Homo sapiens: one gene and its partners. The protein of the gene in region 1 interacts with the protein of each later gene in a pairwise test. Each region holds a gene or a part of one and is shown on either strand. Other genes may lie near its edges.

Region 1 (3,500 bases):
GTATAGGTGTACCATTTTTTTTCTTGTATACCTTTTATTACTGTACCTTTTTCTATGTTGAGATATGCTTAGATACACAAATACCACTGTTTTACAATTGCCTGCAGTATTCAGTGCAGTAACACAATGTACAGGTTTGTAGCCTTGGAGCAGTAGGCCAAACCACCTAACGTGGGTGTGTACAAGTAGGCCAGGCCATCTAGGTTTGTGTAAGTACACTCTGCGATGTTCACATAAGGATGAAATCATCTAAGAACACATTTCTCAGAACATATCCCTGTCCTTAAGCGATGCATGACTGTGTGTGTTTCTTCACTCTATAGTTAATCATTTTCACGTGCATTTCTTTTGTTTTGTTTCTTACAACAATGTGGTGAGACAATCAGAGCATCTCTTGATTCTTCCATCTTATAAGTGAATAAACTGAATCTGAGAAAGGTTAAGTGGCTTTAGTCACATTAAATAGTTATTTCTCCTACACCATTGTTAACACATGTAAGTTTTGTATAGTTAAGTTTTGTTTTTCCTGAAAAGATTATCTGATGCATTCTGAATATTACCAGGATGCTGAGTTTTAATATCTCTTGTGCCAGCAGTAGCAAGTAAGAATTTTTGTTTTGTATAACTTTGCTTATGTGAAAGCCTTCTGTGCCTGGATCTCTTCTGAATATATGTGAATTGCTATTATGTGCTAAGTCAAATTTTGGGGACTTGCAGCTATAGAATAAGGGCTTTATGCTATAGATTTACATCCTATTGTCTTTTTTTAGAAGGCTTCTCAACCTTGTAGCTATAGTTACTCATCCTAAATTCCAGGAAGCTTCTAGAAACAGTGGAGACTTTGCAGGCTGTCCTCAGCATCTCCCTGCCTCTGTTTACGACTTACCCTTTCATCTTTTCAGAGTGCCCATGCCCAGAGAACATGATCCCCAACTTGCCTCAGACCCTGTTCTGTTCTAGGGAGTAAATCTAATTGCAAGATTTTTAGGCTTATTAAGAAACATTTGAGATTTGAAGCCCTTTAAATTATATCATTTATCATTGTCTAGAGCCTCGGATTTCACCATGAGGCTTTTGGTTAAGATTTAAATAGGTCTAGTAACTGTGCAAGCTAGGGCAATTTAGTTAACCTCTCTGTGATTAAGTTCCTGTTTGTAAAATTAGAATAATAATGCCATCAACCTCATAGAGTTATTAGGATTAGGTGAAGCACTTAGCATAGTGCCTGTCCTATAGTAATCTATCTTATTAACTATTACGTATTTTTAAAAAAAGAACCAGTGCTGGTTTGGAAATTCAGTAACTATCTGAGGAAGATAAAAGATGGATTTATATTTTAAAAATGAATAGAACCTAGATTGTGTTCTTAAGGCAACTCTAGATTTAGGTACAAATTCATCTTGCTAGGGAAGCCTGAAGTGATACCATAGTACCACTTGCTGGTGTGGATGGCTCTCTGACTCTCTGGTAGCCATTCATCCCACATGCCCAGTTACTGTTTATAGTCCTAGAAATGCAGATTCCTTCCACGTGAGGCTTACAGTTGAGCATAGCCTCCCAAATACCACATGCAGTTCGTGAACATGAGCACTTGTAGAATATTGTGTAATATCTTTTAGATTAATGTTTTGAGACTTTTTTTTTCTTTTGAAGTCCTAGAAGGGCAGTAGTGTTTCTTTGCCTTTAAAGAATATTTGGGGCTGGGTGCGATAGCTTATACCAGTAATCTCAGCACTTTAGGAGGCTGAGGCGGGAGAATCATTGGAACTCAGGAGTTCCAAACCAGCCTGGGCAATGTAGCAAGATCTCATCTCTACTAAAAATAAAAAAATTTGCCAGGCGTGGTGGCATGTGCCTGTAGTCTCTGCTACTCGGGAGGCTGAGGTGGGATGATCACTTGAGCTGAGTGATAGAGGCTACAGTGAGCTATGATTGTACCACCGCATGCACTCTAGCCTGGGTAAAAGAGCAAGACCCTGTCTCAAAAAATAAAATAAAGATGTTTGGGCTTTTGAGTTAAGAAAGCTGTGGAATTTAAGTTCACAGTGTTTATGTGATATTTATGTTAGGTGGACGGTATACTTGTAAAAAAAGAATTTAGGAGCAAATAATCGAATTATTTAAATAAAACTCAAAGCAAACTCCTTCCCCAAAAAGATGTTCATCAGATGTTAGCTACCATCCTCTGTTATCTACCAAAAATGATTAATTTGGCATAGATTACAAATTAACAAATTACACCATCACACACCTGGGTTTGATTTTCTTTTCCCAGAACTGACCAAATACATTAGCAGCTTGCTCTGCCAAGAACAAAATAAATACACTGGATTTTACAGTAGTTAAATACTTTACTAGAAAACAAGTTATTCAGTATCATATCAAGCAGTGCAATGATACTCATGTTTTTTACAGATAGACTATGTTTCAAATAATAGGAAATGTAACCTGTTTTACCAGGAAATTGGGCTTTCTGAAAATAAACAAGCAGAATCTAGTCAGGAGCTAATGTTTTTAGCAAAGGAGGGAAATAAAATTACACCTTTGAAGCTTTGCTTAAGCTTCTTTTTGAATATTTTAAAAGTCCACCATTCTTTCTGGTCTAAGTCCGTGTGTATATGGACTAGCTCACAAGCCTGTGTTAGAGAGTTTAGTGTCGGGCGCGGTGGCTCATGCTTGTAATCCCAGCACTTTGGGAGGCTGAGGCGGGTGGATCACGAGGTCAGGAGTTCGAGACCAGCCTGGCCAACATGGTGAAACCCCATCTCTACTAAAAATACAAAAATTAGCTGAGCACGGAGGCGCACGCCTGTAATCCCAGCTACTCGGGAGGCTGAGGCAGGAGAATTGCTTCAACCTGGGAGGCAGAGGTTGCAGTGAGCCGAGATCGTGCCATTGCACTCCAGCCTGGGCGACAGGGCAAGACTCCGTCTCAAAAAAAAAAAAAAAAAAAAAAAAGAGTTTACTGTCAAAATATAGGGCATTAAACCAATGAACAGGATTTATTGGTTAATTCTTTGAAGGAATAAATAGTGCGATTAGCAATAAAAGTAGATATAACATAAAAGACAAGTTGGTAAAGGACAGTTTTCTAACAATGAGTTATTGTGAGGAATGAAGGGAGGCATTAGAAAGAATGGATAATAGTATATTTGCATATCTGCCTGGATGTCTTGGGATGGACTGTGTGACCTTTTTATTCTCTGATTACAAGTAAAAAGTTTGACCTCCTTTTTCTTAATGTTTGTCTTTTCTAGATTGTCAAAAGAGTGGGGAATGGTGAGGAAACGCCGATGATTGGAGACAAAGTTTATGTCCATTACAAAGGAAAATTGTCAAATGGAAAGAAGTTTGATTCCAGTCATGATAGAAATGAACCATTTGTCTTTAGTCTTGGCAAAGGTAAGAGGGTATTTTTTTGAGTTGTGTTTTACTTAGCTTTATTACTATTTGTAATATATAGGAGCAGAGGATTCTATCCTTTCTAAAAGTAAAGAAAT
Region 2 (3,594 bases), on another chromosome or scaffold:
TGAGGTACAGTAAGAAAACTCTTGATTTCTAAGTACTGGTAAAGTAGACTATTGTCTTCTATTCTCAATAAACTATTCTCCAGCAGCTCCTACAGATTAAAATATATGCAGATACATATATAGTGAAGTCAACAGCTGTTATTTGTTGACATAACTATGTATTTAAGTTATAATGGGAACAAACATCTTACCAATCCTTTGGAGATAACAGACTCTTCTGTTCTGAAAAATAATATTAAAATTTATCATGAATTTGTAAACTATTTTAGAATGATACTTCATCTTATGAAAAATACAGCAAAAACTGAAATTTTAACACTTTTAAAATGCATATCATTAAGGAGAAATTCTGTTGAAGAACTTGATCAAAAGTTTTAATCCATCTTTGATCTGTCTTTCGGTTTGGCTAAGGCCACTAAATCTGACCAAAATAAATCTACTCAGGGATTATTTCCTAACTTCAAAACAATAGATCTTCAACAGCAAGTGCTAAGAAACTAACTAAACCTGATATAACCAATGCTATATATTCCAGTTGATTATTCTGTAAAATCTTTCCAATTCTTTTTATTCAAAAAAAGACTCAATGACTCTGCAGTTTGGAAATCTCAAGAATTTAGGACTTAGATTCAAAACAATACATATTATCACTGTATGAATAACAGAAACTAAATGTAATGAATATAAAATCATTAAAACATACATAATACAGCAAATTTACAGAATTAGTAACTACTTGTGCCAGGAGACCCTTGGAAATTCCTGCCTTGTATGCTGAAGCTTTGGACATTGCCATGTTACAAATCTTCCTTCACCTGGTAAGAGATGGGACTGATAAACTGTCACTAGTGTTCATAGAGGATAATTGCAAAGCCCTAACTGATCTCAGGGGATAATTTAAACATGTTACATGTTATAGTGAAAGAAAACAAAGCATATAGTTCTGTGAAATTCTTTAATTTCTGTCTAGAAATTATGTATACCTGTTACTCTGTAATTTCCTTTTTTTTTTTTTTTTCTTTTGCGACAGGGTCTTACTCTGTTGCCCAGGCTGGACTGCAGTGGCATGATCTCTGCTCACTGCAGCCCAGACCTCCCAGGCACAGGTGATTCTTTCACCTCAACCTCCCAAGTAGCTGGGACAACGGGCAGGCGCCACCACTCCTGGCTAATTTTTTCTATTTTTTGTAGAGAGAGAGACTGGTTTCGAACTCCTGGGGTCAAGCAATCCTCTCGCCTTGGTCTCCCAAAGTGCTGGGATTATAGGCGTGAGCCACCGTGCCTGGCTTTTTTTTTTTTTTTTTAAATAGAAAGTCCTGCTGCTTAGCACCTCAAATGAGAAAAGTTGTAATTGAATGACATCACTGTCAATAATCTAAATTATAAAAGGTGGAAGTCAAGACACCTCCTTCCTTTTGATGCAATTCACAGACTGTGTCCATGAAGGAAAAATACGGAAGAACTTCTTTTATTGACTGCCCTTCCTTAAGATGGAGGAGGATGCAGTGGGGTAGAGGTGTTTTAATTTACCAACTTTTGGAGTAAGAGAAGAAACCTTAGAAACAGATGACTGTAAAAGCCCTTAAGACAAAATCTTAATACTGTCTTAAGTTTAAAATAAAACAGACTTTGGTGTAAAACCTCCTTGACTCATTTCTGTCTCTCTCGTGAATTATTTGCCTCGCTGTTTTATAAAATAACCAATTAATTAATTAGAGCTTAGCAAAGAAAAGGCAGTCTCCGCTGATCTTAACAAGGACTATTTTAACACTACTATTTCATTTTGAGATACCATCTAAACGATCTTACCTTTGCAAAAAGACTTCAATGTGCCCCATATTAAACTGCAAAAGGTACAATGGGCTAAAATAGAAACAAAACAAATATATATATTATACACACACACAGAGATATGTACACACATACATATTGTTATGGGTTGAATTGTATCTCCCCCAAAAAAGATATGTTGGAGTCCTAACCTCTAGTACCTCAGAATTTGACCTTATTTGGAGATAGGGTTATGGAGGTAATCAATTTAAAATGAGATTATTAGGGTGGGCCCTAATCCAATATGACTGTTGTCCTTATGTAAAAGGAAAGTTTGGAGACAGACACAAGCACACAGGGAGAACAGCATACGAACATGAAGGCAGAGAACAGGATAATGCATCTACAAGCCAAAGACCATCAAAGATTGTGAGCAAATCACCAGAAGCCAGGAGAGAGGCATGGAGAAGATTCTCCTTCACAACCCTCAGAAGGAGCATCCAGAACTATGAGACAAACTATTTCTGTTATTTCAACCATCCAGTTGGTAGCACTTTTTTACAGGAGCCCTAGCAAGTTAATATACATATGCTGTATAAGTTATTTTGGTGATAGAATGTGATGCTTAAGAGTATAGGCTCTGGGGTCAGACAGAGCTATCTGCATCCCACCTATGCCACAAAGTAGTTAGATCTTCAGTGGTATATTAACTTGTCTAAGCCTGTTATTTTCATCTGTAAAATGAGAGAATGCTCTATTTCACAGGCTTATTATAAGGATGAGATAATGCATATAAAGTTATTAGCATAATGTTTCATACATGGTGAACATGCAAATGATAGCCAGTATTTCAACATTTACATACGAATGTACTCCTAGCTATATTCATATATAAATGCACAAACTCACACAAATACCCAATGCCTATAAGACAAATACACAATCCTTATTATCATAGAACTCAAAGTCCAGAAGATATTACATTATAAAATTATATATTTTAAAAATAATTTTAATAAACATTGTGGGAAAAGAAGACAAGGTCAAGGTAATTATAATAGAAGGATTCAACCTAAATTGGGTGGTGAGTGAAGGCTTTCTTCAGAAAGTGACATTTAAGGATAAAGAGAATTTTAAGCATATACAAAGGCCAAATAGGAAAATTCATAACATTTAAACTAGAAACAAAAGAAGGTCTGTGTCACTGGAGCATAGTAAACAAGAGGAAAGGTGGTAGGAGATGAATCAGGTCAATTAAGCAGGGACCAGACCAGGCACAAGTTTGTCTCAGAAGTTATGCAAAGGCATTAAGACTTTATTCTTAAAGCAATAAAAAGCCACTGGAGGGTTTTCAGTAAGGGACTTCTTTTAAGGCTTCGCTTTCTGGTATGTTGAGAATGTGTTAAATTAAAAGGAAGTAAAAGTAGATATATAAATCCACTCAGGATTACAGCAGTAATCCAGTGAAAAGATGATGATACCCCTGGGTACCTGGCTAGTTCCAGGGTGGTCTCAAAAGCTTCAAAACCAAGCCCTGTTTATCATCTTCTGATTCTTGTCCCCACCATTCCCTTACACCTATTTCAACACTCCCCACTTTCATTACTTGTCTACTGCTATCTTTAACAGATTATAGCTGGGATCATTCTTATTAAAAATAGCCTTTACTATTTATTTAAAATGTATTAGTGTGTTAATATGCATATATTGGACATTAGATAAATGAGAATTTTATGAAATTCCTTTTAGAATACATGAATAAACCAAACACTAACTCTTACCTTAAGACCATTGGAAGCTGATCAATATGGATGCCCTGTACAA
Region 3 (3,594 bases), on another chromosome or scaffold:
TACAATGGCAAGATCTAGTGTGTGACCACGGGAGTTAGTGTCTGAAGTGGATTGGAGAAGCAGATCATTGGAGCTGAGGTTGGCTAGAGCTGTTCTCATGGGCACTAATGTCATGGAGTCAACAGCTGTGATCCAAGTGCCCACATCTTCAGTGAATGACAGAGAGGGATTGAGAGTTCAGTGAATGACCGCTAAAAGAAGAGTAATGGAAGATGTGGCTGGATGGCATTAAAATCCAAGGGACAGGGGTTTTTACTTAAAAGTAGAGAAGTAATGGTTTTGAAGTGGTAGTGGGGAAAAGGGAGGCAGCTTATGACACTTGTCAGTGGTCAAAGGTATGAGGAAGTTATAGAAAAACTAACATCCACTTGAGAATATTATAGGGAAGCAGTGAGCTCAAGGTCTCATTTAAGGAAAGGAGCCAAAAGGAAATTCACCAGAGGTTAGCTTTTAGGTAGTTTTTAAAGCAGGATTGAAGAATGGAGACTAAACAGTGAAAATGTTTGGGAGAGAGAGGAGCAATAGATATGAAGCTAAACAGAGGAAGCACAGAACAGAATGGAGATGAGTATGTTGGGAGGAAAAGGAATAGTCAGAGGCTTATATTTTGAGTTGTGACCAAGGAAGACAGGGTGGGAATCCTCGTGAGGTTATCTTGTTTCAGATTTCTAGTAGAATGAGTCCCAGGGATTCCAGGGGGGATGGAAGGACTCAGGCTTCCCTATAAGGAGTTGGCTAACGGATCTCATTGGTTTTTGAGTAACTCCTGGCCCAGATGGCACTAGTTCAATGGAATTATTTTGTTCCCCCAAAACTTATTGAGTTGGAAACAGGTCTAACTCCTGGGATCTGGGAAGCCTTTCTGGAAAGAGTCACCCACGATCTGGCTGATGTTGAACTGTGCAGACACCATCATATTTGGTTATGTTAGGATGCAATAATTGGTGAAGCTTCTGTAGTGTTGAATGAAGAATCCAGGTTGGAAGGGATGAAAGGGTGAGTGGGTGATGAGGTTTGTCAGCACAGACTGCAATTTTGAGAAATGTGGTTATAAAATACCATACCTTAATACCGCAGTGCTTTACCACTCACAAATGCCTGTAGACGTATCTGGCAGAGAGGAAAGGGGTTGAATGGCAAGAATGTGGGAAGGGACTGTGGCTAGTTAGTGAAAATAGTCTACACTTGGGACATAAAAGGCATTTCAAGCTGACCTACTAAGAAGCTCTGTCTCTGACTCAGCCAGCTGGCTCTCTCCTTCCCTGTCATGTTTTCATTTTCTGTCTTTTCTCTAGTTTCTCAGGATGGTATAGTGGAGTCAGACAAGTCTGAATTTGAGTCTTGGCTCTGACTATTCCTAGACATGTTTTAAAAGTTACATTGAGCCCTGGTTTTCTCTGTAAACTGAGGATAAGCATGCTATCCCAAAGGTTGTATCCCTCACTGGTCACCAGCTTCCTGTCTTCTATCCACCTGTCTTCCTCTTCCTCTTTCCCTAGTCCTGCATATTGAAAAACATTTTTTTTTTTTTTTGAGATGGAGTCTTGCTCTGCCACCCAGGCTGGAGTGCAGAGGCACGATCCTGGCTCACTGCAACCTCTGCCTTCCAGGTTCAAGCAATTCTCCTGCCTCAGCCTCCCGAGTAGCTGGGATTATAAGCATATACCACCACATCTGGCTAATTTTTGTATTTTTAGTAGAGATGGAGTTTCACCACATTGGCCAGGCTGGTCTCGAACTCCTGACCTCAGGTGATCCGCTCGCTTTGGTCTTCCAAAGTGCTGGGATTATAGGCGTGGGCCACTGCGCCAGTCTGAAAAACGTATTTTTAAGCACATACTATCATATCTTCTTGTCTTTTACCTGGAATTTAAGCTGGTTGTTTGTATTACCTTTTCCATGGACATTTATATTTATAACCAATCAGAAGGTTTAAATGTCAGTGTAGGAATTTTGTGCTATGGAAGCTTCGTGGCTTGGTGAATGGTAAAATGAATAATGTGTGTATATTTGAAGCATCAGAAAGAGAAAATGCTGGGAAGATTCATAGAACCAGTTAACATTTGAACTAGGAGTCATAAGAAATTTTTAAAATACTTAAATGGTTTATGAACCTGATGTGGTAGCTACATGAAACCTGCATAGCTGCAGGTATGCTATGGTAGGTAAACTCTCCATGCTCCTGCTTCCATTGGACCATTTGGCTCCAATGTCTCCAGGTCTTTGTTAGATCAATACTGGTCCTAGCATCTCTGAAAGTCCTAGCTTTCTAAGATGCTGTTGAAAAAGAGGATTAATCCACATAACTCTGCATCTGCCATTTTGCCCATGTCCCAGGAATGCTGGGCCTAGCCCTTCCTTTCTGAACTGCCAGAACACGTTCTCAGTTGACATACGTCTTTGTAAATACTGATGTTGGTGTTTGAATTCTCAATTGCCAATGGCACTGGAAAATAGCAAAAGATACTTGGAATACTAAGCATTCTTTTTTTCCCGTAAGTTTCTGTAGTGATGGGAACCTAGTTAATGGCTTTGGTTTCTGTGCCTCATAACCACATGAAACATTTTTAATTTGGGGCTCAGAATGTGTTTTTCCCTTTTATTTCTCCACCACTACCATTTACCCTTTCTCCCTTCTTCCTCCTACAATTTGTTCCTTATTCTTTTTTGATTTTTTTTGAGGGGGGGGGTCTAACTTATTTTGGTCTCTCTTCCCTTTTCATCTGTACTGTGTATTTCCCTTGTTTTCAACTTTGAATTTAAGACTTTAAAAATAGCTTTAAAAAGATAAAGATTTCTTTATTTTCTAATACCATCTAAAGATATATTTTTTAGTGTGGTCTCCTTGTGTTGTGTTTTTAAAAGGGTTTCATATTGGAGAGCCTGGAAAACTTAAGCAGTTGTAAACTTTAGAATATCATTTCCAGGTCAACTTTGATCTTATATGCCAAGTTCATCGGTGGGGAAAAAAATTAAATCTTTCACATCTAAATCAATAACTAGTGTTCCAAAGGAAACTTCAAAGTTTCACTTTAGATTTTTAAAGAAGGGTAATTCCTTCAGTATCAAAGAAATGAGATGTCAGGAAAAGCCAGAATCCCTTTGTTTAGGACACAGTCTAGTTACTTGACTTTTCTTGTCCTTTTTCTTCCCCCTCTGAATGTAAAAATCTTCTTCTTCTTCTTCTTTTTTTTTTTTTTTTTGGTCTCTCAAGAGACACTTTTACTATATTCTTTGAGATGACTGTTTTTGATTTAGAGGCGAAATCAGCACGTGGTGGCTCAAATCTCCTTATGGATAGTGTTTCTTCCTTCCAGCTTTTCATGTTTCAACTTTTGCGGGGCCTGGCGTACATCCACCACCAACACGTTCTTCACAGGGACCTGAAACCTCAGAACTTACTCATCAGTCACCTGGGAGAGCTCAAACTGGCTGATTTTGGTAAGTCGCCCCTCGGGTCTCATTCTGGGCTGTGAACAATGATGCTTTTGTGTGCACTTGTTTAAGCGTTGACTGGGCCTGGCCTTTGAAAACTGGAGGCCCAAGAACATGATGCTTTGTGAGGATATCAAACTACCACAAAGGAAGTGTGAG
Region 4 (3,594 bases), on another chromosome or scaffold:
TAAAGGCTTGGCATATGAATTTGATTAAAGCATATGTTATAAACTAATTATATACACCAACTATGTTTTGCCATAGTATTCTGAAAGTAGTACAATGGAACAGATATATATCTTATATAATATATCTTATATAATATATATCATATATAATATATAATGTCTCATTTAATATATATCATATATTATATATTTTATATATTATATAATGGAGCAATAATATAAAGGGTAGTATTAGTATAATGGAGCAGTAATATAAAGGGTAGTATTAGATGTTGAGGGTCGTAAGGGTTCTTTGGTGAAAAGTTTTATTGTGTCAGCGAATGGTTGGAGCAGTCTTTATGGGCCTACAGTGTTGGGTTCTTTTGCGTAGTTGTATATAACCTAAAATTTTTTTTTCAGTGAGTGTAAGGAATGGTAGAGACAGGGTCTCGCTATGTTGCCCAGCTGATCTTGAATTCCTGGGCTCAAGTGATCCTCCTGCCTTGGCCTCCCACAGTGCTGGGATTACAGGTGTGAGCCACTGCACCTGCCCCAAATAGCTTTTTAAAAAGCTGAAATGGGAGGAAGCTTTGCCTTTAGTCATCTAATACCTCAAAAGGGAAGTGTAGAAAAGATCTAATATAATTTTTTTTTTGTTTTGAGACGGAGTCTTGCTCTGTCGCCCAGGCTGGAGTGCAGTGGCCAATCTTGGCTCACTGCAACCTCCAACTCCCGGGTTCACACCATTCTCCTGCCTCAGCCTCCCGAGTAGCTGGGACTACAGGCACCCGCCATCACGCCTGGCTAATTATGTTTTAACCTCCCGTTGTAAAGTTTGTAAATGGTTTTCAGAGAATGTCTGAGAAATAATAGATCAAATGGTTTGCACTAACCTCAGTTGCGGAATATATTATAAAATCACAAGAAAGCAGATTGTTTACCAGTGCTCAAATGAAGACAATTAAGAATACACTGCTGGCGATCAGCTCAAGAGGTAAAGGTAGAAGAAAAAATGAGGTAGACTGGGCATGTTTAAGGCAAAGGGGAATATAAAATCTGTAAAATTCACTAGGCTGATCTATGTATGACGGTAGTTTTAGTGTTTCCTTGGTTTAGCCCTGTAAATACACCACTTAGAAATAATCATACTTGGGAACTATTTTATGTCTAGGTGCATACCAGATGCTAGGTATTAGATTTGCGGGGGTATCGCCTGCCCCCAGAAAGTTCTACCTTGACCAAGACTGTTGTAAGCCTACACACTTAGTGACGTTTAGCTTAGTAAACTGGACAGCGCCTCATACCCTTTATTAAAAGTGGTAGAAACTTCATGGCTCATCATCGGTGTCAGCAAAACTGATGTGTTTAGATGATTAAAGTCAAATGACTGAAAGTGTTTTCCTGCCTTTGTAGGTGTTCATAATGTGACAGCCCTGAGCAACCTCATAACGTGGCAGAAGGTGGATTATGACTTCAGCTACCATCAGATGGAATTCCCCTGCAATATTAACGTTTTCATTACTTCGGAGGGGAGGTCACTCCTCCCGGTATGATGAGTCATTTTTAAATGGAGGGAGGTTGACATTGGAAAAATACCTACATTTTTGCTGTTTCTTGGTACCGCTTATTAATAAGTTACATTTGTTGTAAAAAAAAAAAAAAAAAAAAAAAAAAAAAAAAAAAAACTGTGACTGCTGATCATTAAGGGAATTGAGTATTTTGCACTGCCATGGATGAAAACCTTACATCTACCAAGCTCAGGTATCAGCAAGTCATGAGACCAGCAAGGCTGTTGGCAGCAGAAACACCCACATCTGAGCATAGCGAGATTGCCTGATTTTAACATCCAGACTTCTGTTCTTGCTACCTTTGACCCATTGTTTTCTGCTAATCTTATGTGAAAAATATTTCAGAGTTCTTTTAAAATGTCCTTGGTCACTTGGTAGTTATTTTCATGCTTTGTGGTGAAATGCTCTGGTATGTCTTCAGAGTGGCTGGTAAAGAGAGCTTTTAATTCTGTGGATGATGGGAAATGCTCCCAGTTGTCAAATGGTGTGTAGTCTCTGAATAATAGTATTCACCTGCGATTGATGAGAAACCGCCTTTGACTAAGAATGAAATGGCTCAAGGATATGTTTTCTGTGTGCAAGTATTGATAGACCTTTTTAATTAGCTGCTTTTTAGAGGTTGGCTACATTTTTGTGTGCTTACTGATACCATTGAGGAAACATAAGTAACCAAGAAAAAGCTTTCATAATTATTTCTGAGGTAGTTATAAAGCATGTAAATTAATATTAAAAATAGATGCTCACTGGCTGCGGTGGCTCACGCCTGTAATCCTAGCACTTTGGGAGGCCAAGGCAGGTGGATTGCGTGAGCCCAGAACTTTGAGGCCAGCCTGGACAACATGACGAAACTTGTCTCTACAAAAAATCCAAAATTAGTCAGGCATGGTGGCGTGCACCTGTGGTCCCACTACTGAGGAGGCTGAGGTGGGAGGATCACTTGAGCCTGGGAAGCAGGTTGCAGTGAGCTGCAATCACACCACTGCACTCCAGCCTGGGTGACAGGACAAAACCCTGTCTCACACACAGAAAAAAAAACATTATTCCCTCCCCCTAAATAATAAGTGGTATTTTCTAATTCCCATAGGGGCTGACAGAGATGATGCATCTTTCTTTAAAAATGTAGATTAATTTAGGAACTCAGAAAATACAGTGTACTCCTTCTCTTTTCAGGCAGACTGCCAGATTCACTTACAGCCCCAGCTAATTCCACCAAACATGGAGGAGTACATGAACAGCCTTCTCTCAGCGGTGCTGCCTTCCGTGCTGAACAAATTCCGCATTTATCTAACTCTTTTGAGATTCTTGGAATATAGCATATCTGATGAAATAACCAAGGTATGTCTAGGTTAAAATAAAGGATTTCCCTGTGTTGAATTGCAGTATGCAACCAATTTACATTTACCATAATTACTGATAAGGTAATTTTGTTATTTGTTTTCTGTCATGTCTTTTTTTATTCCTCTGTTACTCCATTATTGTCTTTTTGTTTGAAATAGGTATTTTCCAGTGTCCCATTTTAATCCCTTGAAGTTTCTTAAAGTTATTTTCTTAGTAGTTGTCTTTGGGGGATAAACTTAACATGTTAGTATAATCATCTATTAGGGATTAATGCCAGTTTGTTTAGTTATTTTTAATTTAAAAAAAATTTGTGTGGCTAATGCCATTTTAATTATATTATACAAAGACTTTGCCCCTTTATAATTCCGTTCCTTCTCCTCTCCCTTGTGCTCCTGTCATACAATTACCTCTCAGTACATTGTATGTCCATCAACACATTTAGAATTACTGCTTTTGCAGTTGTCTTTTAGAGAAAAAAGTTAGAAATGGAAAAGACTTCTGTACTATTTTTTCTATTTGCCTATGCAATCACTTTTACCAGCACCCTTTATTTCCTCATGTGGGTTCATGTTACTGTCTAGTATCTTTTCATTTCAGCCTGAAGAACTGTCTTTAGTGTTTCTTGCATGGCAGGTCTACTTGTGCAAATTCTTTTTTTTTTTTTTTTTTTTTTTTGAGACAGGGTCTCGCTGTGTCATCCAGGCTAGAG

The links.
Region 2: the proteins of FKBP5 (region 1) and GLMN come close enough for resonance energy transfer, tested with the Homo sapiens proteins (one study listed by BioGRID).
Region 3: the proteins of FKBP5 (region 1) and CDK15 interact in binary tests that used the Homo sapiens proteins (3 or more experiments, as listed by UniProt).
Region 4: the proteins of FKBP5 (region 1) and MCMBP interact in binary tests that used the Homo sapiens proteins (3 or more experiments, as listed by UniProt).

Annotation. Positions count from the first base shown.
Region 1 is NC_000006.12:35,636,916-35,640,415, reverse strand, and holds part of FKBP5 (peptidyl-prolyl cis-trans isomerase FKBP5), read left to right. Parts: intron 1-3,257; coding exon 3,258-3,402; intron 3,403-3,500. UniProt on the Homo sapiens protein: Immunophilin protein with PPIase and co-chaperone activities. Component of unligated steroid receptors heterocomplexes through interaction with heat-shock protein 90 (HSP90).
Region 2 is NC_000001.11:92,267,914-92,271,507, forward strand, and holds part of GLMN (glomulin), read right to left. Parts: coding exon 3,552-3,594; intron 1,864-3,551; coding exon 1,810-1,863; intron 223-1,809; coding exon 192-222; intron 90-191; coding exon 1-89.
Region 3 is NC_000002.12:201,830,531-201,834,124, forward strand, and holds part of CDK15 (cyclin-dependent kinase 15), read left to right. Parts: intron 1-3,317; coding exon 3,318-3,441; intron 3,442-3,594. UniProt on the Homo sapiens protein: Serine/threonine-protein kinase that acts like an antiapoptotic protein that counters TRAIL/TNFSF10-induced apoptosis by inducing phosphorylation of BIRC5 at 'Thr-34'.
Region 4 is NC_000010.11:119,834,828-119,838,421, reverse strand, and holds part of MCMBP (mini-chromosome maintenance complex-binding protein), read left to right. Parts: intron 1-1,392; coding exon 1,393-1,526; intron 1,527-2,717; coding exon 2,718-2,882; intron 2,883-3,594. UniProt on the Homo sapiens protein: Associated component of the MCM complex that acts as a regulator of DNA replication.